2 separate regions of the Homo sapiens genome follow, and region 2 is linked to region 1. Evidence: fine-mapped expression QTL. A gene starts in region 1. The other region holds a variant in brackets. All regions are shown on one strand. Distances are between the middles of the regions. Region 1 holds the start of SEMA4D (semaphorin 4D). Region 2 has its middle 21 kb from the start of GADD45G.

What was found.
Region 2: its variant is fine-mapped to the expression of SEMA4D in tibial nerve (GTEx, PIP above 0.99).

What each region holds. Positions count from the first base shown.
Region 1 is chr9:89,493,711-89,504,514 of GRCh38, forward strand. SEMA4D (semaphorin 4D) reads right to left here and starts at 4,403. Exons shown (of 16, transcript NM_001371194.2): 1 at 4,209-4,403. RefSeq lists silencers at 3,723-3,872, 4,303-4,492.
Region 2 is chr9:89,577,634-89,589,754 of GRCh38, forward strand. No RefSeq gene overlaps it. Among named protein-coding and RNA genes, the nearest start is that of GADD45G, 21 kb to the right of the region's middle. The variant G/A (reference allele first, on the strand shown) is at 5,286.

The DNA of each region.
Region 1 (10,804 bases):
ACTTTGTAGACTTCTATGCAGCACGCATCACTTATGTTTTTGCTATAGCTTTAGGTTACTTAACATATCCTTTACTAAATGGAAGAAGAAAACAAAGACACCACAGGAAATGCTGGAACAAGCCCCAGGTCCAGGTCAGCCAACCAGCAATGGGGACCCCTCTGGCGCAGGCTCCAGACCAGACTTGGCCTTTGTTTCTGTACTGAGTGTAAGGATAACCCTTCTGTGGCTGGATTGTACTATTATTTAATTGTCAGGGTCTTTGTCTTGTCTCCCCTAATGCTGATAGTAGCATATTGATTTCTATCCTTCATAGCCCACAAAGCACATATTCAGAGGATCAATAACTATTGATTCATTGATTGCCTCATGGAAGCCAATTCATCTGTTATTAAGACGTGTAGAAACATGAACTTCCACAAATCAAATTCTATTTAAAACGCCAGAGGAAAGTATATGACCTAATGAAGACCACTTTTTGAAAATTCATTTTGATATTCCAAAAATAATTCCTTGTAACAGAAACAAACCATACATAAGTACAAAAAGAAGACAAAGTATAGGTTCCCTCTTCCTCTTCCCTCTCCTCCCCCAACACACACTCACTCACATTCACACACGCCCCACCCTTTGCTAACTGTGGAGTGCTGCTTTCACTCAGGGCTGAGTCCCTAGAGCCTGGGGCAGCGCCTGGCACCAGGTCCACATAGGCGGCTCCATAATGATCTGCTGAATACCAGGTGTGTGTCCTTCCAGATGGGCTTCCGTGCTGAGCGCCTGCACTTGTGCATGGAGAGGGCACATTCTCTATAGTCTACACTAAGGAGTGACATTTCTACTTAATAGATTGGCATATCTTTTAAAGTAAACCTTTGAATGATGCCATCATGAAGTAAAGAATCCAATGGCATGTTTTACAGGGAGGAATTGGAGATCTCCGATTATTATTAACTTTTCATGATGGAGAATTTTCAAAGTGCATGCAAGTAGGCAGAACAGAACAAAGAACCCAGGTACTCTCATCCAGACCCCAAACTGTCCACTCAGACCATCTCGCCCCTTCTCATCCCCTCTGCTTCCCCACCCCACACTAATCTGAGGCAGATCCCAAACATCATTTCATCTACCAACACTCAGTATCTATTGCTAAAGGGTGAAAGTTATTCTAACATAACCACGATGCTGTGATTAAGGAATTCCTTAAAATCATCATTCACTCCACAAATGTCCATGAGACACATCAATAGCCTAGTTTTCAAAGGAGTGATGCTTGGATCAAATGCTGATCCAAGTGACAGCCTGGATCAGGCTTTGATCGAAGCCAGAAATCTTGGGGTGCCACTTAGATGTGATCCAGGGCAGGGATGCAGTCATTGCTTTCATGGGCAGCATCTGAAACTTCTGGACCAAATAACAGGACCCTGCCTGCCCCCCACTGAGGTTTGCACAGGTGCTGTGGGAAGGCGGCTGCTGATGCCCCAGGGGAAGCAGCAAGGCAGTAGAAAGCTGGGGCCCCTGCTGTGACACCCCCAGCTAAAGGCAAATTCGCTCAGGGAGGGTCACAGAAGCTGAAAAGTGACCCACAAGCAGCAAAGCAATTTGCTTATCCCAAGGATCGCCTTAACTAGTGCACCTAAAACACCACCCAGCTTCCAGGGAAGGCCCTGGCACACCCTCTCCACCTGACTGAATCAGCAGCTATCTCCTCCAGCAGCCCTGGACCCTGGACGGCAATGGTGATGGGGATGGGGATGCAATGGGCAGGGCTGAGGAACTGCACCTGCCAAGCCCAGGGCGGACCCTGGCCCAGGGAAGAGAGGACCCACCCCAGCTGCCTCTGCCACCTCCCTTCTCACCTTCTAGTCTTCTTCCTGGAATTGTCCAAGTTCAAAGAAGAAATAACTGCCCTGGTTGGGAACAGCAGGCAGCAGCCTTTCTCTCAGCAACTAGGCTCGACAATCAGCCGACGGCACGTTTATTTCTATATTTTCACGTGGCAAGTTTCATCCCCATGGGTCCTAGCTCCAACCCTGGAGCTCTGGCTCCAGGGGTCAGGAGGAGAATCTGCAACCACCCTCCTGGACCCGCCCATCCCTCCCTCCCCAACAGAAATGGAACCAAGAGAGGCAGAAGCCTGAACAGCCTCAATGCAGAAGCACAGAAGATAGAGAAAACCATTGATCTTTGCAATGCATTATTGATTTTGCTGTTGTGCTGTCAGCAGCGGACGTTCCCTCCCTCCTCAGTCAAAGCTGGCCATTAGCGTGCACTCCCAAGCTTTGGCCTAGACACACCCGCTTGGTGTGGGGAAAGCGGCTCTAGGTAACATCTGCCTCCAGCGGTCCACATGGAGAGGACTGTCCACAAGTGGATGATGTCACCAAGGACATCTCCCTGGCCCCAGACCCACTGGATATCAAATGCAACATGGTCGCTGGTCTTGCACTCTAAACCTCAGCCCAGGACCCCAGGCACTCAGGGGGGTCTGTGCAAGGCTGCATTTTCAACAGACTCTGGGTGTGCTTCTCAGGAGGTGGGCCCCCTCCCATGGAGTCCCTCCCTTGTGCTGTGCTGCAAGACCTTGGGCTGGCATGGCAGCTGGGGCTCTGCATCCCCACGGTGGCCTTTTGCCTGTCTGCACTCTGAAATACAGCCACTGAGTTCCACCGTCTACCAACTCCTAAGCGGCCCACCCTCCTGGGACCCCAGGGCTGCTCCTGGCACCAGTGATGTGTTTCTATTTCTTTGTTTGACTCGCTGAGTGTACCACGTACACTCTTCTCAGTCTGAAGGTCTGGCCTTATGGGAGGGCAGTCTTTGCTCACAGAAACAGGCCAGTGCATCCCTCATCTTCCCACCCCAGCCTCCCTGGTGGGTATGCTGAGCCCGCCTGCTTTCTTCTTCTGGCTGACGACTACCAAGACATGATATACGCAGACACCAACTGTCAAAATGACAATCAGGGCATTATCATCTCTACCAGAATCCTGCCCCTGCACTGGCCAGAGCTGCCTGTTTCTGGGACACAGTAAACATTCCCAAATAACCTCGCCTGGGCAGCCAGCAGGCAGGCCCCAGGCCTAGGACACATATGAGGTGACAGGCCACTGGTGTCACGTCACCCCCAGGAAAGGAAACTTCCGTTCCGTGGCGCCTGGTGGATTTGAAAAGACTCAGAACAGCAGGGTGAGATGCTTGGCCCCAGGCCCCACGTCCAGCTTGGCCTTCGGGGGCCTGGCCACCCACGAGCCTGGGATGTGCTCAACACAGAGTGAGGTTTTCAAAACAAAAGCAAAGCAACTTCATGTGGAAAACCTTCCGGAAAGCAGGACCCAGCCCTCGACACCAGGCCTCATTTGACGCAAACTGCCCACTTACAGACTCCCATTCACCCACTCTCCCACCTACCCCCCAAAATACTAAGCCAGAAAATAGAGGACAACCACGAGTTCAACTCTCCTTTACACGTTTTTACTGGCATAACCCCAGTAGAGCCAGCCCCTTGCAGCTCACTAGGCGGCTGCAACAGGTGCAGCCCAAGCTAAGGCTTGTGGTTCTCCTGGGCTGTTCTAGAATAATGCAACCAAAACCCGAAAGGAAACCGAGGCCTGCAGCACTCACTGCCAAGGCGGCGACCTGACCACTGCGGCCCAACCTGCCCCACCTGTCTGAGTGCGCGGCGCCGGGTCCAGTGCACAGGGTCCGCGGCCTCCGCGACCAAAATAGAAGCCCGCGGGGGCCCGGCCAGAGCCCGGCTGGCCGGAGTGGGGCCTGACCTGGCGGGGCCGGACTGGGCGGGCCGGGGCGCGACGGGGCCTGGCCGAGCGCACCGCCCCCTCCCTGGCCCGGGTATGCAGCGCGCCCCCGCTCCCCCGCGCCCAGAGGAGCCACCTGCGCGCAGGGACTGGGGAGGCAACCGGGAAGGGGAGAAGGCCGGGGAGGGATAGCAGAGAGGTCCAGGGGGTCGGAGGGGTCCGGGTAGGTGTCTCTGGGAGGCGTCCCAGGAGGGGCCCCGGGGGGATCCAGGAAGGAGTCCAGGGGTCCGGGGATCCCAGAAGGAGGCTCCTGCAGGGGTTCGGGGAGGGCCCCGAGGGTCCGGTGAGGAGCCTAGGGGTGTGGAGTGGGGGCTCCGCGGAGGGTCCAGGCCGCCCCCAGCGCACCTGCCCGGCCCCGCGCGCCCTCCCTCCCGCGCCAGCCCGGCCGCTTACCTGCAGCGCGCGTCCTGCCCGCGGCGGCTCCCGGCCGGGCGAGTTCGGGCGCCAGGAATGGCGGCGGCGGCGGCGGCGGCAGCGGCGGGAGGCGGCCGGGCCGGGGAGGGGGTGGCGGGGAGGCCCGGCGGCGGCAGCGGCGGCTGGGATGCTGCGGCGCGCGAGAGCGCTGAGGCCGGCGCGGGGACGGAGTGCGCGGGGCGGGCGCGCAGGCCCCTCCTCCGCTCCCCCTCCCTTCCCGCCTCCTCCCCTTTCCCTTCCCCTTCCTCTCCCCCTTCTTCTCTTCCCTCCTATGGCCCCGCCCCTTTCTTCCTCCTTCCTCCTCCCTCCTCCTCGCCCCTGCTCACCTCCCTCCTTTCCCTCCCCCAACCTTTCTTTTCCTCCCTTCTCTTTTTCCTCCTCTTTCTTCACCTTCGCAACACTCTTCCACCTCTCTCCCCTTCTCCCCACTTTTGCTCCCCACTCCTTCCTCCTCACCTCCCATCTCTCTTGCCTCCCCGCCAGGCCCAGAGGGTTGTCCCTCAGCCCTGGGTTGGTCTCTGCTGAGTCAAGCACCCGTTCCCAGGACCAAGAGGTGCCCTGTCACCCTCTTCCTCACCAGCTCTCAATAGACAAGCTTGCCCCTTCTGGGGTCCTGGATGAACCCCACCCTTTCCAGGCCTCCCCCAAATCCCCCAGTTTTTTTTCACCCCCAGACCCTGGGCCAGCTCTTCTGAGAACCTGACCTGCAGTGTGCGTGAGGCACGTGGCACCCAGAACACTTGGCTGCTGACTTTGGGCAAGAATATTTCACACCAGGCTGCTCCCATTCCCCAGGGGAGGGGCTGGCACCACCTGGAGTCTTGGTTTCCCTGAACCCCCGTGCTAGCCTTTTGCCAAACGTTCATCATTTTCCACTCTGTATGGCAAATGGTCCTCCTGTGAGGCTGCTGGTGAGACTTGTTTGTGACTAGCCCATGGGTTTGGGGATCTGGGGGCCCTCAGAGATGGTGCTGCTCCATCCAGACCTCTTCCCTCTGCCCCCAGGAGAGGTGACAGGGCTCGCACAGTGACTGGCCAGGCTGGGAGGCCTATTGAGGAACACAGTCCTGAGAAGGGGACACAGTTTCTTACGGAACCAGCTAAGATTTCCCCTAAATGTGAGGAGTTGGGGAGCCCCTCTCCAGGCCAGGTGATACCTCCCTGGACTACAGACTGCTGTTGAGGGGCAGGGGCCCTGAGGCTGTTTTCCTGCTGAGCACTGGCTCTGAGAGCCAGAGTTTACAAATGAAGCCAGTCCCAGGCCCAACAGTCACAGAGTTAAAGGCCCAACAGTCTCAGAGTTCCGTTCTAGGGCCTCCTGTGGTTTCTGTGGTTCAGTGCCGGAGCTCTGAGAATAGGGCTTCGGCCCAGCAAAGGCTAAGATGGCAAAGCTGGTGTCAAGCAGGGTGGGGTGGAGCACGCACCCCCTCCTCCCTCTACGGCATGGCAGCCACCACCCTCTTGCTGAAGAATCCAGACCTGGAATCTGATAGACTCCCTTGACTCACAGCTCTGCAGTTTCCAAATAACCTCAGGCCTCAGCAAACCTCTGTACCCTGCAACATGAGGACAGTGTGGTCGTCCTGGAGGGTTTGGGGAGCACGGAGAGAGAATGGCAGGTAAAGCCCACTGCACCGTGTGCTCGGGTTCAGTGCTGGTGACTATTACAGGAAAAACTAGAGAAGTCTTTTCCAAGCTCTTTTCCAATTGTAGGGGTCCATGAATCCATGTTCCACATCCCATTTGGATTGAAACATAATGGGAACGGATTAGGACAGAACTGGTTTAACAGCATTCTATACCCAAGGAGGGATGCACGCTTAGGATCTACACATGCAAGCATTGCACTGATTGGGGTGGGGTGGGGGGACTCTCTTTTATTCCTCACTAGTCAGACACATCTAGAATACCATGCCCTTGCTTGGTGTCTAAGGCAGCCAGCAGTATCCCGTGGGAGGGGAGTTGACCCACCGGGAGTCTTCAGCCTAGAAAATCAATGTGTGGAGCACAAGACAGAAGAACCCCAATATGTGCAAAACTGTCCCGGGAAGAAGGATTACTCTGTGGTGTTATGAAGGGCAGAATGAGGACAGATGGGTGGAAATTAGATGAGAAAGTGGATTCCTGCCTATCGTGGGCGCTTTCTGACAGACCTCACTGTGGAAGAGCCGGCTGCCCCTACAGGAGCGTGCCCTTCACAGCCAGCGTCTAGACAGGCCTGGGGCCACCTTGGGAACACACTGCAGGGAGGGGACCAGCAGCAGAGGGGTATGCTTCTCAACAACTGCTGAATTCTCTCCTGGCTTTTAGACCCACATGCTCAGAATCTAATAGAGGGCAGCCCAGGGCAAAGAAGAGACTTTGCATGGCTGTCCTGGGGCCCACACTTCTGGCATCATGACCTTCCAGAATACTGTCCTCTCTAGCCTGTTTCCTAATGCATACAGAAGAACATGAGAGAATTCAGTAAAAACTCCAAAAAGCTTTCCGCAATGCCCAGGCTGCGAACACAAGGGCTTCTTTGCACCGTGCTTATATAAAATTGCCCCCAAACATGTTTATTGCATTCATGAAGGAGACAGGACTCTTAGTTGTAAGTGATAGAACTTCAGCCCATACTATTGGCTCACTTGCATCCAAAGATGCCCCAAGTACCATTAGAACCGGGACTTGGATGCCATTATTAGGTCTTCCTCTTCCCTCCTCTCTGACCTTCTTCCCTGTTCCCTTCTCTCAGCATGATTGCCTATGTCTCCCAAAGTGACCAAGCTTGCCTTTTTATTCTTGTTTCACACTCTGTCGTGGGACATTTCAAACATAGATATAAAAGTAGCAGGCTGGGTGCAGTGGCTCACGCCTGTAATCCCAACACTTTGGGAGGCTGAGGCAGGCGGATCACCTGAGGTCAGGAGTTCGAGACCAGCCTTGCCAACATGGTGAAACCCCGTCTCTACTAAAAATACAAAAATTAGGTGGGCATGGTGGCACAAACCTGTAATCCCAGCTACTCAGGAGGCTGAGGCAGGAGAATCACTTGAACCCGGGAGGCGGAGGTTGCAGTGAGCCAAGATCATATACCACTGCACTCCAGCTTGGGCGACAGAGCAAAACTCAGTCTCAAAAAATAAAAATAAAAGTAGCTAAATGAACTCCAATCTTGCCTTACCTCTCACCCCCTTACTTTCCCCTCCAATATTAAGTTCAAGCATATCAAAGATCATATTAACCAATCTATTTCCTAGTTTCCCCAGAAATGCCAAGTGTTTGGATACTGAGACCATGCTTTGCAAAGTTTCTCTGCATTTCCCAGCCAGAATGTTGACACCATCTATATGCATATGAGCATAGTAACTGGATTGATAATAGTTAAGTCCCATATGAGAAAAAAACTCAAGTATGGCAGCACAAATAATACTCAGCTTCCAACACGGCCCAGGTGGATATGAGGAGAGAGGATCCTCTGCTTCCACTTTGCAGTGCAGGAGGGAACAGGCACGTAGTGGGCTGGGAGCCGTTTCCAGATCGCCCAGTGTGGAGCCTTACGCAGTGGAGGAGGTGTCTTCAGAAAGAGTCGGCCTGCCGCCTCTCACCTGTAGTGGCATGCAGAGTGTCCAGGCTAAGCTTAGAGAGAGAGTCAGCACAGCAAGTGGAGAAACGGGGTCCTCTGAGGGACTGTGGGAAGGTTGGCTCTGGGACCTGCCAGCAGCTTCTAGAAAAGTCCGGGGAGATGTCCTTTGAATGTGACCACACTCTGCAGAGACGTGGGTGAGCCACACCTCCACTGTTACCATGCAGTGGCTGCCAAGACCATGCTGTGACTCCTACTCCTAGCTCTGTTCCTCCCCGCACCCCAGAAAAGGCTGGTAAGAGTGTGGCCTTCCTGGCCAGCCTCTCCAAAATAGAGAGTCCACACCGGTCTCTGTCAGGCACCCTGATTGTTAGAACATGTCAATGAAGGAAGCCGAAAGGGATTTTGAAGGCTCTGAGATCCCCAGGCACCTCTAGCACCCTCATATGTCCTTACTGCCACTGAGACCCCCACAGGACCCACAGAGCTCTTTTTGTTAAAGCCACACTTGGAAACGTGGGGTCACACCAGCAGAAGCATAGAAATGAAGGCCGTGCTGAGATGTTATCATTGCTCTGTGCTCCTGCACAGCGTTCAACTGTCAAACCACTAAGTGCTAGATAAATCTGGTGAAGGGGTGTAATCCATTTTTGGTGCACACACTCATGGCAGCACTTCCCACATCACTGAACATGCAGAATGGTTTACCAAGCCATCCTTCGTCATACTGGGGAGTGTACAGGATGCTGATGTGGCCCCATCTGACCATTGATCTAATCAGTGCTGGTGTCTGCTGGATTAGACTTGCCCCAGCAAGTGAACTTGCCCCAGCAATGCCTTTCTGACCTTTAAGGTGACTGCTGTCACCAACTGCCAGACCATGGACCTCTTCGCATCCCTGGCTGGCTGGCAGACACCCACTTATGTGTCAAGGCTCTGCCCTGGCATCATTTCCTCCAACACAAACCCATGCACCCTGGGCAGAGCTAATATCCCCCACCCTGCTCCTCAGCTCGAATGTCACCTTACACGTCACTTCCTTGGTGCCTGCACCAGCTTCCATTATAATTGTTTGTTGATAGTTTTCTTTCTTCTCTGGTCTACATTTTGAACTTCACAGAGTGGTGAGGTCTACAGAACTCTTTTCAGAGTAATGTGTTTAAATGCATAAAGTCAAATACAGGATTCAAAAGGAAATGAATTATACTGAAATCCAGCTACCAAAATACTTTAAAATGTGATCTACTTGCTTCTTTTTTAATAATATGCTCTGGCGGCAGATCTGATAGCTGTAGTTTCCAAGTCATGATAAGTCAGCCGATATTTTAAAGTCTGTAACGAGCATGATGTGATGTGAGAATCGCTGTGATTTCTGCTGAGAAGTCCTTACATACTGCTGATGTGGCTGTGTTTGTTGCCTGCATGTACACCCGAAGGAAATGCTTCCTTTCAGTTAGAGGTTAGTGGGGAAAAAAATGTAATTCTTTTCTTATCATCCTTCCATCTGGATGGACCCTTCAAAGTTGATCAGACTAAGAATTACTATTTTAAAGGAAAGGGACCTTGTATCTCCAGCATCTTGCATAGTGCTTTATAAAGTTGCCATCAAACATGTTTATAGCATTAATGAAGGAGACAGGACTCTTGGTGGTAAATGACAGAAATTCAGCTCATACTATTGGCTCACTTGCGTCTAAAGGTGCTCCAGGTACAGTTAGATCCAGGGACTTGGATGCCATTATTAAATATCCCTCTTCTCTCGGCTCTCTGACTCTTTCCCTCTTTCTCTCTGATTGGCCCTAGCTCTGTTTGGGTGTTGGTTTTATCCTCTCCTGTCACAAGGCTCCTGGCCACCAAACTCTAAAATGATGACAAAGACTCTTTCTCTTTATATTGCAAATCTCATGGAAGAACTTTGATTGGCTCTGTTGGCTCTCATGCCAATCCCATTTACCCAAAATTCCAGAGAAGGATGAGAAACCACAACCGGTCAGACCTGGGCCACATGCATATGCTTGCAGCAGGTACAGTTCACAATCTCACAGAACTGCAGGGCTGTGGGAGAGCAGTTCCCTAATGCACAGATGAGTGCTAAGCAAATAGAAACAACATGTGCCCAGGTGTGTTCAAGTCAGAGGGCAAATGAGCAATCACAGAGTGTTTATTTGGATGCACGATTCCCTGCTATGATAAAAATCCAGTGGTTTGACTGAGACAGAAGTTTATTCATTTCTTATATAACATTATCAGAGGTAGACATGTGGACCAGGACTGGTGGGGAGCTTTGCTGTCTCCCATTTGGATGTTACCGTCCATCTAGCTGGAAAGAGGAAGAGTATGATCAATAGATTTCATAGGCCAGGACGAGTGTGATCAATAGATTTCAGTGCAATACCAGGAAGTAGCACACATCACTTCTGTCACATACCATTGACCAGAACTTAGTCCTGGGCCCACATGTAGCTGCAAGGGGGAGTTGGAAATGTAGCTGCTAGTTGAGTGACTATGTAACCAGCTAAAAGTCTGTAATTAATATATTAAGGAAAGGAAAAACAGATATTCATGGACAACTAGGTGAGTGCCATGCTCACTGTAGTGTCATTAGTGCTACTATACATTTAAGTGGAAAATTGCTCACCTACTAGAATGTCTAAAATTGAAAATAGCAAGTGTTGGCAAGGATGTGGAGCAGCTAGAATTCTCATACATCTTCGCTGGGAGTGTAAAATAGTATGGCCACTTTGGAACATACAGAGCAATACTACTGAAGCTAAATACTCAAATGCTCTATAACCCAGCAATTCCTCTTCTGGATAGAATGCACAAAAATAAGTGCATATGTTTACCAAAACACATATATAAGAATGCTCATGATAACTTCATTTGTTGTGACTCCAAACTAGAAACAACCCGAGTGTCTATCAGTAGTAGAAAGACAAATAACTGGTGGTAAAGTCACCCTATGGAATACTACAAAGTAATGAAAAAGGGAAAGAACTCCACGTAG
Region 2 (12,121 bases), 85 kb after region 1:
TAATGATGATAATAAACATCTGTTCATGTGCTTATCTGCCATCCGATATCTTCTTGGTGAACTGTCTGCTCAGATCTTTTGATTATTTTTTTAAATTACCTTGTTTATCTTCTCATTTTGCATTGTAACAGCTCTTATATATTCTAGATAAAAGTCTTTTCTATTATTTGCAAATATTTTCTCACAGTCTATAGCTTGCCTTTTCATTTAACAGTGTCTTTTGAAGAGCATATATTCTTAATTTTGATAAAGTTCAATTTATTAAATTTTTAATATATAGTTCTAGTTTTTTGGGTCCAGTTTAAGAAATCTTTGCCTAACCCCAGGTGACCAAGATTTTCTCTTATGTTTTCTTCTAGAAGTTTCATAGTTTAGCTTTCACATTAAGATCTATGACCCATTTCAAATTAGTCTTCTTCTACAGTGTGATGTAGGGGTTGCATTTCATTGTTTTGTTTTTGCATGGGACAAATTTGCATCCAGTTGTTTCAGTACCAGTTGTTGAAAAAATTATCATTTCTTCATTGAATTGCCTTGGCAACTTTGTCAAAATTTAATTGATTCTACATGAGTGGATCTATTTCTGAACTCACTATTCCATTCCATTGACCTACATGTTTTTTTTCAGTTAGACTAATGCCACAATGTCTTGATAACTGTTGATTTATAATAAATCTTGAAATGAGCAGTTAGTCTAAAAAACCTCATTCTCCTTTTTCAAAATTGTGTTGGCCACAAGCAAACAAAATTGTTTTAGATCCTTTGCATTCCATGTAAATATTATAATTAGCTTCTCAATTTCTGCAAAAAAGAAGAAACCTCCTGAGATTTTACTTGAGATTTCACCAAATCTCTAAATCAGTTTGGGGAGAATTGACATCATAGCAATATTGACTCATGAACATGGTATACCTCTCCATTTATTTAGACCTTCTTTAATTTTCCTCAGGATTGTTTTGTAGTTTGTGCATCTTTTGTTTAATTTATTCCTAAGTATTTCATATTCTTTGATGTCACTGTAAATGTTACAATGTCATGTAAATGTTGCTAATTTCCAATATTTTATTGTGTTTTGAACATTTCCACCTTTCAGTGTACTTCTAGTATATAGAAATCCAACAAATTTTTAAAAATTGAACTTGTATCCTACAATCTTGCCAAATTCACTTGTTAGTTCTAGTGGCTTTTTGTACATTCCTTAGATTTTTCCATGTAGATTATTATATCTGTGAATAAATCCAGTTTTATTTCTTCCTTTCCAATCATATGATTTTATTTTTCTCACAAGGACCTCTGTGGTTGGCAGAATAATGCCCCAGTGATGTCTACATCTGAATCCCCAGATCCTGAGAACATGTTACATGACAGGGCAAAGGGGAATTAAGGTTTCAGATAGACTTGTAGTTGTTAATTAACTGATTTTAAGAGATTATTCTGGAATATCCATGTGGGACCCAATGTAACCATGAAGATCCTTGTAAGTGGGAGGGGTTGGCAGAGAGGACATCAGCCTGATGGATGTGAGAAGGACTCGATCTGCTGTTGCTGGCTTTGAAGGTGGAGGGTTAGTCCATTCTCATTCTGCTAATAAGGACATACCCAAGACTGGGTAATTTATAAAGGAAAGAGATTGAATTGACTCACAGTTCAGCATGGCTGGGGAAGCCTCAGGAAACTTATAATCATGGCGGAAGGGGAAGCAAACACACACAAACCATGGGGAACTATGAATTACTATTGAGGAACAGCACATTCAACATGTCATAGCAATCAAATACAAAATTAGCCCGGCATGTTGGTGCATGCCTATAATCCTAGCTACTCGGGAAGCTGAGGCAGGAGAATCGCTTGAACCTGGGAGGCGGAGGTTGCAGTGAGCCAAGATCACCCTGTTGTCTGCTGTGCCATGGACGCCTTGGCTCAGAATGCAAGTGCCTGGGAGGGGAGATGTTCTAAACTGCTGTTCTGCATTCACAATGAGCAATATTTTGGAAAGAAGGATATTCCTGGGTTAGGATGAACCCAGGCACTGCCTTCAAAACAAATTTTTAAATTTAAACGTTTCACTCTTCCACCTCATTCTGCCAGGGCTGTTGATGGCAGCTGTGTGTGTGCATGTATGTGAGCAGATGTGTGTGGATATGTGTGTGTGCATGGGCACATGTGGACATGTGTGCATGGACATATGTATGCATGGATGTGTGTATGTATAAATGTGCATTGGCAGGTGTGTGTGTGTGACAGTGTGTGTATGTGTATGGGAGGACCTGGGCATAGAGGTGACTGTGTCTATGTGTGTGAGTTTGTCTTTGTAGGCGTTTCCAATCTCTTGGCCCCTGACCTGCTAGCAACTTCCCTCTTGTGTTCCGGTTCACCCTTATCCAGCTTCCACCTGATCAACTGCCATGTACAGATCCTCTACTCCTTCACTAGTTGCCCCTCTTATGGGAAACCCCACCCAAAATCTATCCACGTGACTATCTGCCTCCTGTATGTGAACACGGGCAGAGACTGCTGTTGGGCTAAAGAAGAACCCACAACCACAATGACTGATGCAACGGGAACTTCCGGACCCCCAGCCTCTAGCAGTAGAGCCCAGCAGTGCTGGCCACGTCTGCTTCGGGTCACAGAGGTGACATTTCCTTTTCAGAGAGCAAGCATCAAAGCCCTCGTCTATGGTGCACTGGGCGACTCTGCGTATCCATACCATCCGATCCTCCTGGTGCAGCAGAAGACATGCTTCTGCCCCACTTGGAGGCAACGCCTTCCCCTGTGCCCTGGCTGCCAACAAGGCCTACCTCTTGGGCCTTCCCAAGCCATCCTGCTACCTCCTCTCTTGATGGTGTTTGAGTAGCCATCTGCTGGCTGCTTCCGCCCATCTTGGAGACAAGTTCATGCTCATTACTGTCCTCGACCTCACACCAGAGTCCTGCCTCCCCTGAGTTTGCTGCTGCAGCCTTCTCTTTCACAACCAAACCTCTGGAATGAGCAGTCGTCACTTGCGCTCTCCACTTCCAAAATCAACTGAAGAAGAAGAAGGCTGCCCTCCACAAGGCAGGACCCACGGGAAGTGGAGCCTTGGCCAAGCACCTGACTGTCTCCTGGTCCAGCCTGGTCTTTTTAATCATCGAGGAAGAGACGCCTGGGATGGAGCTTCATTCCTTTTTTTGGTGGGAAGGTGACTTTCTGACTCCCTTGTGAGAGAGGAGGCTTCTATGTTACTGCAGCCACCAGGAAAACACTTTCTTCCTTTGAATTTAGGTGGCAGGATTTCTGAGAATGAAGGTCGCTCTTTGATTCTGTGTTTACGTGCATTGGATATTGGTGCATTGGGTGTTGGCTGGAAGCCTTCCCTGACTCTGCCTAAGCTCCCCCTAGTCATTTGTATTTTTCCTTCTTTGCACTTGTCATGACTGTTGTTCTACGGCTCCTTTTCTCCATGGCGCGTCTCACTCGGGGCTAGGTGTCTGACGGGCCCTACACAGTCAGCCCACCCACCAATGAAGGGCTGTCCAGGCTGCAGTGCTGGAGCTCCCTGCTGAGCTGCTGCACCAGGCCCCAAGGCCCCAGAGGATGCCCAATGTTTGCCAAATAAACATACAAATGTACTTATAAATACAACATCCCATTTCCTTAGAAACAAATTCCTAGGTTGAAGTAGATTATAGCAATTTTAGTAATTTGATCCATCTAGTCCTATAGCATAATCCAAAAAGTGGCCAGACTTTTGGATTTTGCCTTTTAAAAAATGTTTATATGCATTCATAGCTAAATAAAAAAGTTGTAAAACAAAATTGTGTGCTGTTTTGGAGTCAGAAACCATATTTTAATGATCTACTTCTGGAAAAGCTGGAAAATGGTTCATCTTCATCATTTCCCCTGCCTGCAACAAAGAAACACCATTTCTTCTCAATTAATCAATCAGCAGCACTTGCTGATCACATCCTATGTACAAGGCATTGAATTAGACTCTCTGGAGGTACAAAGATGAAGGAGGCACTTCATTTGTGCTTTTGAAATATATGTGCTAGAAAAGGATGATTAAAAGTAAGCACTTGTCCAAAACTCTTGCTTTTTGCCAAGAGGGGGCAACAGATGACATTTACCCTTCCACTTGAAATAACTAAAAAACCAGACAACTATATATGAAATAATAGTTTTCATGATGTTGGACAGGAGACAGGGAAGGACAGTGATCCCTGAGAGAGCCAAGAAACAAATGAGAATAGTCCCGCAGTTTCCCAACGGGCTGCCTGAATAGAGTTTCCAGGCTCCGGCATAAAGGGAGGCTCGTGTTGGAACCTGGCACACTGCTGGGGCTGAGAAAGGGGAGCTGGGCATCGGGGAAGTCCAAGGCAGCTGGTCTTCCCAGGGCAGGGCACCACTGCAGAGAGAGCTGTGCAGAGATAGAAGCCCAGAGATCTTCGGAGGACCCCCTTTAGTATTTAGTAGAGTGTGGATCAATGAATGTGTACGTGGAAGCTACCCAGGGCTGGGGAGAAACCCACACAAAGGATTAGAGGGAGCAGTACTGGGAACTCACACAGGGCTGGGAATAGTGCCTGCTCCCACCAGGCAGGCTGAAAAAAGACAGAATCTATGGGGCACCGGGGATAGTACGCAGAAGGACCTTGCCCCAGTGGTGGGGGATTGTTAGCCCTAGACTTCAATCTGCTCTGGATTCAAATAACAAATCTTAAAACAAGACCTGAAAGCATTGAACTGTTTCTAAGAATCTTAATTGCCTCCTAGAGCAAAGTTAAAAAAGTATTTGTAGGAATACAGAAATAATCTAGTATCCAATGAGGTAAAATGGATTTCTTTTTTTTCAAGATGGAGTCTTGCTTTGTCACCCAGGCTGGAGTGCAGTGGTGTGATCTTGGCTCACTGCAACCTCTGCCTCCCGGGTTCAAGCAATTCTCTGCCTCAGCCTCCTGAGTAGCTGGGATTACAGGTGCCAGCCACCACACCAGGCTAATTTTTGTATTTTTAGTAGAGATGGGGTTTCACCATTTTGGCCAGGCTGGTCTTGAACTCCTGACCTTGTGATCCACCTGCCTCAGCCTCCCAAAGTGCTCGAATTAGAGGCGTGAGCCATTGCGCCCAGCCGGAAATTATTGACATTGAATAGAAAATCACCAGGCCTGTGAAACTTAACCCCAAATGAAGAGAATAATCAATCAACTGAATCTGACCCAAAATTGATGCTGATGTTGGAATCAGCAGATAAGAGCATTAGGATGGTTATTATAATTGTATTTCTTATGTTCAAAAAGCTAGAGGAA[G/A]AAAGAAAAAAGACTAAAATTTGGGTAAGAAACTAAAAAGCATCACTGGACTATGGGACAACTATACATGATTGCCATGTATATGGACATGACTATAGTAGATGGACAGACTATCTAAAGACATCCATGTAGACAGACAGACTATCTAAAGAGATTATGACTGAAAAATATCCAAATTTGATGAAGAGTATAAATCTACCACTCCATAAAGTTCAATAAAACCCAAACACAAGAAAAATGAGGAAAATGAATCAAGGCACATCATAATCTAATCTTAAAAGCAACCAGAGAAGCAGCACAAAGGAACAGATGCAGAACAAGAGCAGATTTCTCACTGGGAAGGACACGAGAGAACATGGTGGAGCTGCCCCTTTAAAGCGCAGAGCAAAACCCAAACCTTCAACCTAGAATTCCATGCCCAGAGAAAACATCCTTCAAAACTGAAGGTGAAATACACACGTTATCAGACATACAAAAGCAAGACAGTTCTGACCAGCAGAATGACACTGCCAAAAATGTTAAAAGAAGTCTTTGAGGCAGAAGGAAAATGACCCCAGATGGGAAACTGGATCTAAGAACTGAAGAGCTAAGGTAACTTTATAGCAACTCTAAGACCTTTTTCCTATGATTTAAATTTCCTTAAAAGTAATTGTATAAACAAAAATGATAGGGCAGTGTAGGATTTATAATGTATGTATGAGTAAAATGTGTGACAAATATAGCATAAAGCCCTGGATGAGAGAAATGGAAGTATACTATCTTATGGCTCTTACAGAATACATGCAGTGGTATAATATCACTTGAAGAAAGACTAACAGTTTGAAGACAGATACTATAAACCCTATGGCAATCACTAAAACAATAACAACAACAACAACACGACAACACAACAACAACAAAGCTGAAAAAGAAGGGAATCCAACTAATTAATCCAGAAGAAGGCAGCAAAAAGTGAAAATGGAAATAAAGAACTTGGGGCAAATAGAAAACAAATAGTACACAATAAATTTAAACCTAATCATAGCAATAACCCCATTAAATGTATGTGGTCTAAACAAGCCAATGAAAAGGCAGATTCTATTTATCATAGTACTAGAAACACTAGCAAGAGCAATCAGGCAAGAGAAAGAAATAAAAGGCATCCAAATAGGAAAAGAAGAAGCCAAACTATCTCTCTTCATGGGTTATATAATTCTACACCTAGAAAACCCTAGACTCCACCAAAAGGCTGCTAAAGCTGATAAATGACTTACGCAAAGTTTCAGGACACAAAATTAATGTACAAAAATCAATAGCATTACTATAAACCAGTAACATTCAAGCTGAGAGCAAAATCAAGAATGCAATTCTATCTACAATAGGCACACAAACAAAAAATACTCAAGAATATATCTAACCAAGGAGGTGAAAGATCTCTACAAGGAGAACTACAAAACATTGCAGAAAGAAACAACAGATGACAAAAACAAATGGAAAAACATTCCATGCTCATGCTCGTGGATTGGAAGAATCAATATCATTTAAATGGCTACACTGCCCAAAGCAATCTACAGATTCAATGCTATTCCTATCAAACCAACATCATTTTTCATAGAACTAGAAAAAACTCTTCTAAAATTCACAAGGAATCAAAAAAGAGCCCGAATACCTACAGCAATCCAAAGCAAAAAGAACAAAGCCAGAGGCATCATATTACCCAACTTCAAACTATACTACAAGGCTACAGTAACCAACACAGCATGGTACTGGAAGAATGCAGAGAATGAAACTGGACCCACATATAAAGAAAGAAACTGGACTCCTATATAAAATATGCAGAAGAATAAGACTGGACCCCTATATAAAGTATACAAAGCTAACTTTCACCATATACAAAAATTAAGATTAAAGAGGGATTTAGATTAAGATTAAAGAGGGATTAAAGAGGGATTAAAGATTTAGATGTAAGACCTCAAACTATAAAAATCCTAGAAGAAAACCTGGACAATACCCTTCTCAACCTAGGAAATACTGTCTGACAAAGAATTTATGGCTAAGTCCCCAAAAGCAATTGCAACAAAACCAAAAACTGACAAGAGGGACCTAATCAAACTAAAGAGCTTCTGCACAGCAAAAGAAATTATCTGCCAGTTGTGGTGGCTTATGCCTGTAATCCCAGCACTGTGGGAGGCTGAGGCGGGTGGACAGTGAGGTCAGGAGTTCAAGACCAGCCTGGCCAACATAGTGAAACCCCGTCTCTACTAAAAATCCAAAAAAAAAAAAAAATTAACTAGGCGTGGTGGCAGGTGCCTGTAATCCCAGCTACTCGAGAGGCTGAAGCAGAAGAATTGCTTGAACCTGGGAGGCGGAGGCTGCAGTGAGCCAAGATTGCACCACTGCACTCCAGCTGGGCAACAGTGCAAGACTCCATCTCAAACAAACAAACAAAAAAAAAGAAAAAGAAAAAGAAAAAGAAATTATCAACAGAATAAACAGACAACTATGGAATGGGAGAAAAAATTGCCAAACTATGCATCCAACCAAGGTCTAATATCTATAAGGAACTTAGTTCAACAAGCAAAACCCAAATAACCTTATTTGAAAATGGGCAAAGACATTAACAGACACTTCTCAAAAGAAGACAGATAAGTGGCCCAGCCACATCACTAATCATTAGAGAAATGCAAATCAAAACCACAATCAGATAACATCTCGTACTAGTCAGAATGGCTATTGTTAAAAAGTCAAAAAATCACAGATGCTGTGGAGGCTGCAGAGTAAAGGGCATTCTCATACACGTTGGTAGGAATGTAAAGTAGTTCAGTCACTGTGAAAAGAAGTTTGGAGATTTCTCCTCAAAGAAAACAGAGCTACCGTTTGGCCCAGCAATCCCATTACTGGATATATATCCCAAAGAAAATAAATCATTCTACTAAAAAGACACATGTGTTTGCATGTTCATCTCGGCACTATTCACAATAGCAAAGACATGGAATCAACACAGGTGCTCGTCAATGGTGGACTGGATAAATAAAATGTGGTACGTATATACCATGGAATACTATGCAGCCGTGAAACAGAACAAAATAATGTCCTTTGCAGAAACATGGATGCAGCTGGAGGCCGTTATCCTAAGCAAATTAATACAGAAACAGAAAACCAAAGATTGCATGTTCTCACTTAGAAGTGGAAGCTAAATATTGGGTACCTGTGGACATAAAGATGGGAAAAATAGGCAATGGGGACTATTAGAGGGTGGGACAGGGGCAAGGGTTGAAAAACTAACTATTGGGTACTATGTTCAGTGTCTTGGTGATGGTGTCATTCATACCCCAAACCTCAGCATCATGAAATATACCCAGGTAACAAACTTGTACATGTACCCTTGAATCTAAAATAAAAGAAAAAAAAGAAAAGAAAAGGCAGATTGTCAGATTGGATTAAAAAAAACAAGACACATGTCTATTTTCTGCCTAAAAGAAACATACTTTAAATATATAAACATAAATGTTTTAAATGTAAAAGACAAGGAAAGATATACTGTGTTTACACTAATCAAAACAATGCTGGAGTGGCTCTGTTAACAAAAACATGGCTTTTAGAGCAAGGCATGTGGCCAGGAAAAATTTCACAGTGAAGAAGGGGTCAATCACCAAGGAGACACAACAATCCTAAACATTTTTGTGTATAATAATAGAGCTTCAAAATATAAGAAGCAAAAACCCGAAGAACTTCATGGAGACATAAGCAAATCCACAATTGGATTTGAAGAGTTCAATAACCTCTTTCAAATGATTGATAGGATAATTAGGCAGAAGTTCAGTGAAGATACAGGAGATTTGAACAATACTATCAACCAATTTCCTTTAATTGACAGAACATCCACCCAACGACAGCAGAACACTTTTTTTTTCTTTTTCTTTTTTTCTTTTCTTTTGAGTCAGAGTTTCGCACTGTCGCCGCCCGGGTTGGAGTGCAATGGCGAGATCTATGCTCACCGCAACCTCCGCCTCCTGGGTTCAAGAGATTCTCCTGCCTCAGCTTCCCGAGTAGCTGGGATTACAGGTGCCTACCACCATGCACGGCTAATTTTTTGTATTTTTAGTAGAGACAGGGTTTCACTATGTTGGCCAGGCTGGTCTCGAACTCCTGACCTTGTGATCCAACTGCCTCGGCCTTTCAAAGTGCTGGGATTATAGGCGTGAGCCATCATGCCCGGCAAACACATTCTTTTCAAGTTCATATGGAAAATTTACCAAGACAGACCATAGTTCTGACGATACAACAAGCGTCAATACATTTAAAGGGATTCAAACCATAAAATGTTCTTTAGCCACAATGGGATTAAATTAGAAAACAATAACAAGAGATCTCTGGGAAGTCTCTAAATATTTTGGGTGAGATGCAGCACATTCAGGGTGATATGGCTATAGACAAAATTTCTAAATTTTGGAAATGAACACTTCTATATGCCTCATGGGCTGAAGAAGGAATCAAAAGGGAAATTAGGAATCGTTTTGGACTGAATGAAAAGAAATATCAAAATTTGGAGCATGCTGCTAAAACAGTGCTTACAGAGAAATTGTATCACTGAACACATATATCAGAAAACAAAGGCTCTAAATTGATGATCTCAGCTTTCACATTAAAAAAAGAAAAAATAGGCCGGGCGCAGTGGCTCATGCCTGTAATCCCAGCACTTTGGGAGGCCAAGGCGGGTGGATCACAAGGTCAAGAGATCGAGACCATCCTGGCCAACATAGTGAAACCCCATCTCTACTAAAAATACAAAAATTAGCCAGGCATGGTGGTGGGCACCTGTAGTCCTAGCTACTTGGGAGGGAGAATCGCTTGAACCCGGGAGGCAGAGATTGCAGTGAGCCGAGATCATGCCACTGCACTCCAGCCTGGCGACAGAGCAAGACTGTCTCAAAAAAAAAAAAAAAAAAAAAAAAAAGAGAGAGAGAGAACAAAAAGACCCCAAATATGCAGAAGAAAGGAAAGAGTAAAGATCATAGGATAAATAAATGAAATAGGGAGATGATCATAGGGACAATCAATCGATTTATTTGAGATGGGGTCTTGCTCTGTTTCCCAGGCTGAATTTGAACTCCTGGGCTCAAGCCATCATCCTGCCTCAGCCTCCTCTATATCTGGGACTACAGGTACAAACCATCATGCCCAGCTAGAAGCTGATTCTTTGAAGAGAGAAGTAAAATTGATAAACCTTTAGCCAGATTGACCATGAAAAAAACCTACCAATGATCACATCCAGAAGGACAGAGATGACATCACTACTGATTGTACAGATGTTAAAAGGGCACCAACAAAATATGATGAACAAATTTAGTCCATAAACTTCAAACTTAAAACAATGGACAATTTCCTAAAGGACACAATGACTAAATCTTACTGAAGGGGAAATAGATAACTGAATCACTCCATATTGATGAAAAGTGTGGAATTTGGAGTTAAAAACCTTTCCAGAAAGAAAACTCCAGGCCCAGGTGGCCTCACTGGAAATTCCACCAAATACTTAAAATATTTTTAATTAAACAATATTTATTTTAAATCACAATTCTTATTTGGTTTATTTAATTATTAATTATTATTTTCATTGTCATTTTTAATTTTGAAGTTGCATCGCCCATTGTGACTACCAGGTACTTCTGTCTTCCTTCCACAGTCTCTTCCCTTCCAGAACCCCAGGGGGGCTTCAGCTCTCCACTGCTGCATGACAGACATCCCCACGCCTACAACTGTGATTTGCTCAGGACCTCTGCCAACTCTGGGCTTGGCTGGGCAGCTCCCTCTTAGAATCCCTCCTGCGCAGCCATTACCATGGCCAAGTCATTTCCAGGCTTCTCTACGTTCATGTCTGGTGGTCGAAGCTGGCTTTCACCTGGGACTTGAGCTGAGCCATTGGCCAGAACATGTAGCCTGGGCTTCCTCAGAACATGGCGACTGGATCTTAGGCAAGATCCTGAGAGAGCCAGGATGTCTCCTTTACGACCTGGCCTCAGAGAGCAGGTGGCATCACTCTCACTGCATTCTCAGATGCAAGTCATGCGTTTAAGGGGAGAGGAACTTGGCTCCCTCTTTCATTGGAAACCATGTCAAGAAATTCTGGATGTGTTTTAAAGTGACCATTAAGTCCTTTAGGGTCTCCCAAGGTTGCTGTAACAAAGTATCTCAAACTGGGAATGAAGGGCAATGACCCAGGAGGGGCCCTGTATCTGGGCACCTGCACAGGCCCACCTGGACTGCTGGCCTCAGAACTGTGGTGAGAGAAACAAACCCTGTTGTCTTCAGGTCACTGTGATGTTAGCTCAGCTTGTTCCAGCAGAAAGTCCTTTCCTCTCACTGATGGAGGCACTGATGCACCAGTTTTTGTCATTTCTTTGCTACATATTCAGAAGGGTCCTTCTACCTTTAAGAATTTAAGATTGACTGGGTGCAGTGGCTCACGCCTGTAATCCCAACACTTTGGGAAGTCAGGAGATCGAGACCATCCTGGCCAACATGGTGAAAACCCGTCTCTACTAAAATACAAAAAAATTAGCAGGGTGTGGTGGCATGTGCCTGTAGTCCCAGGTACTTGGGAGGCTGAGGCAGGGGAATCGCTTGAACGCGGGAGGCGGCGGTAGCAGTGAGCCGAGATCGCGCCACTGCACTCCAGCCTGGTGACAGAGCAACACTCTGTGTCAAAAAAAAAAAAAAAGAAAAAAAAAGAATTTAAGATTTTGGAGTATTTGGCAATACTCCAACGTGATTAAGCGTGTGGACTCAGGAGTCAAAGCACCAGTGTTCTTTCCTGACTCATATTTGCTGGGACCTTGGGCAAATTACCTAACCTA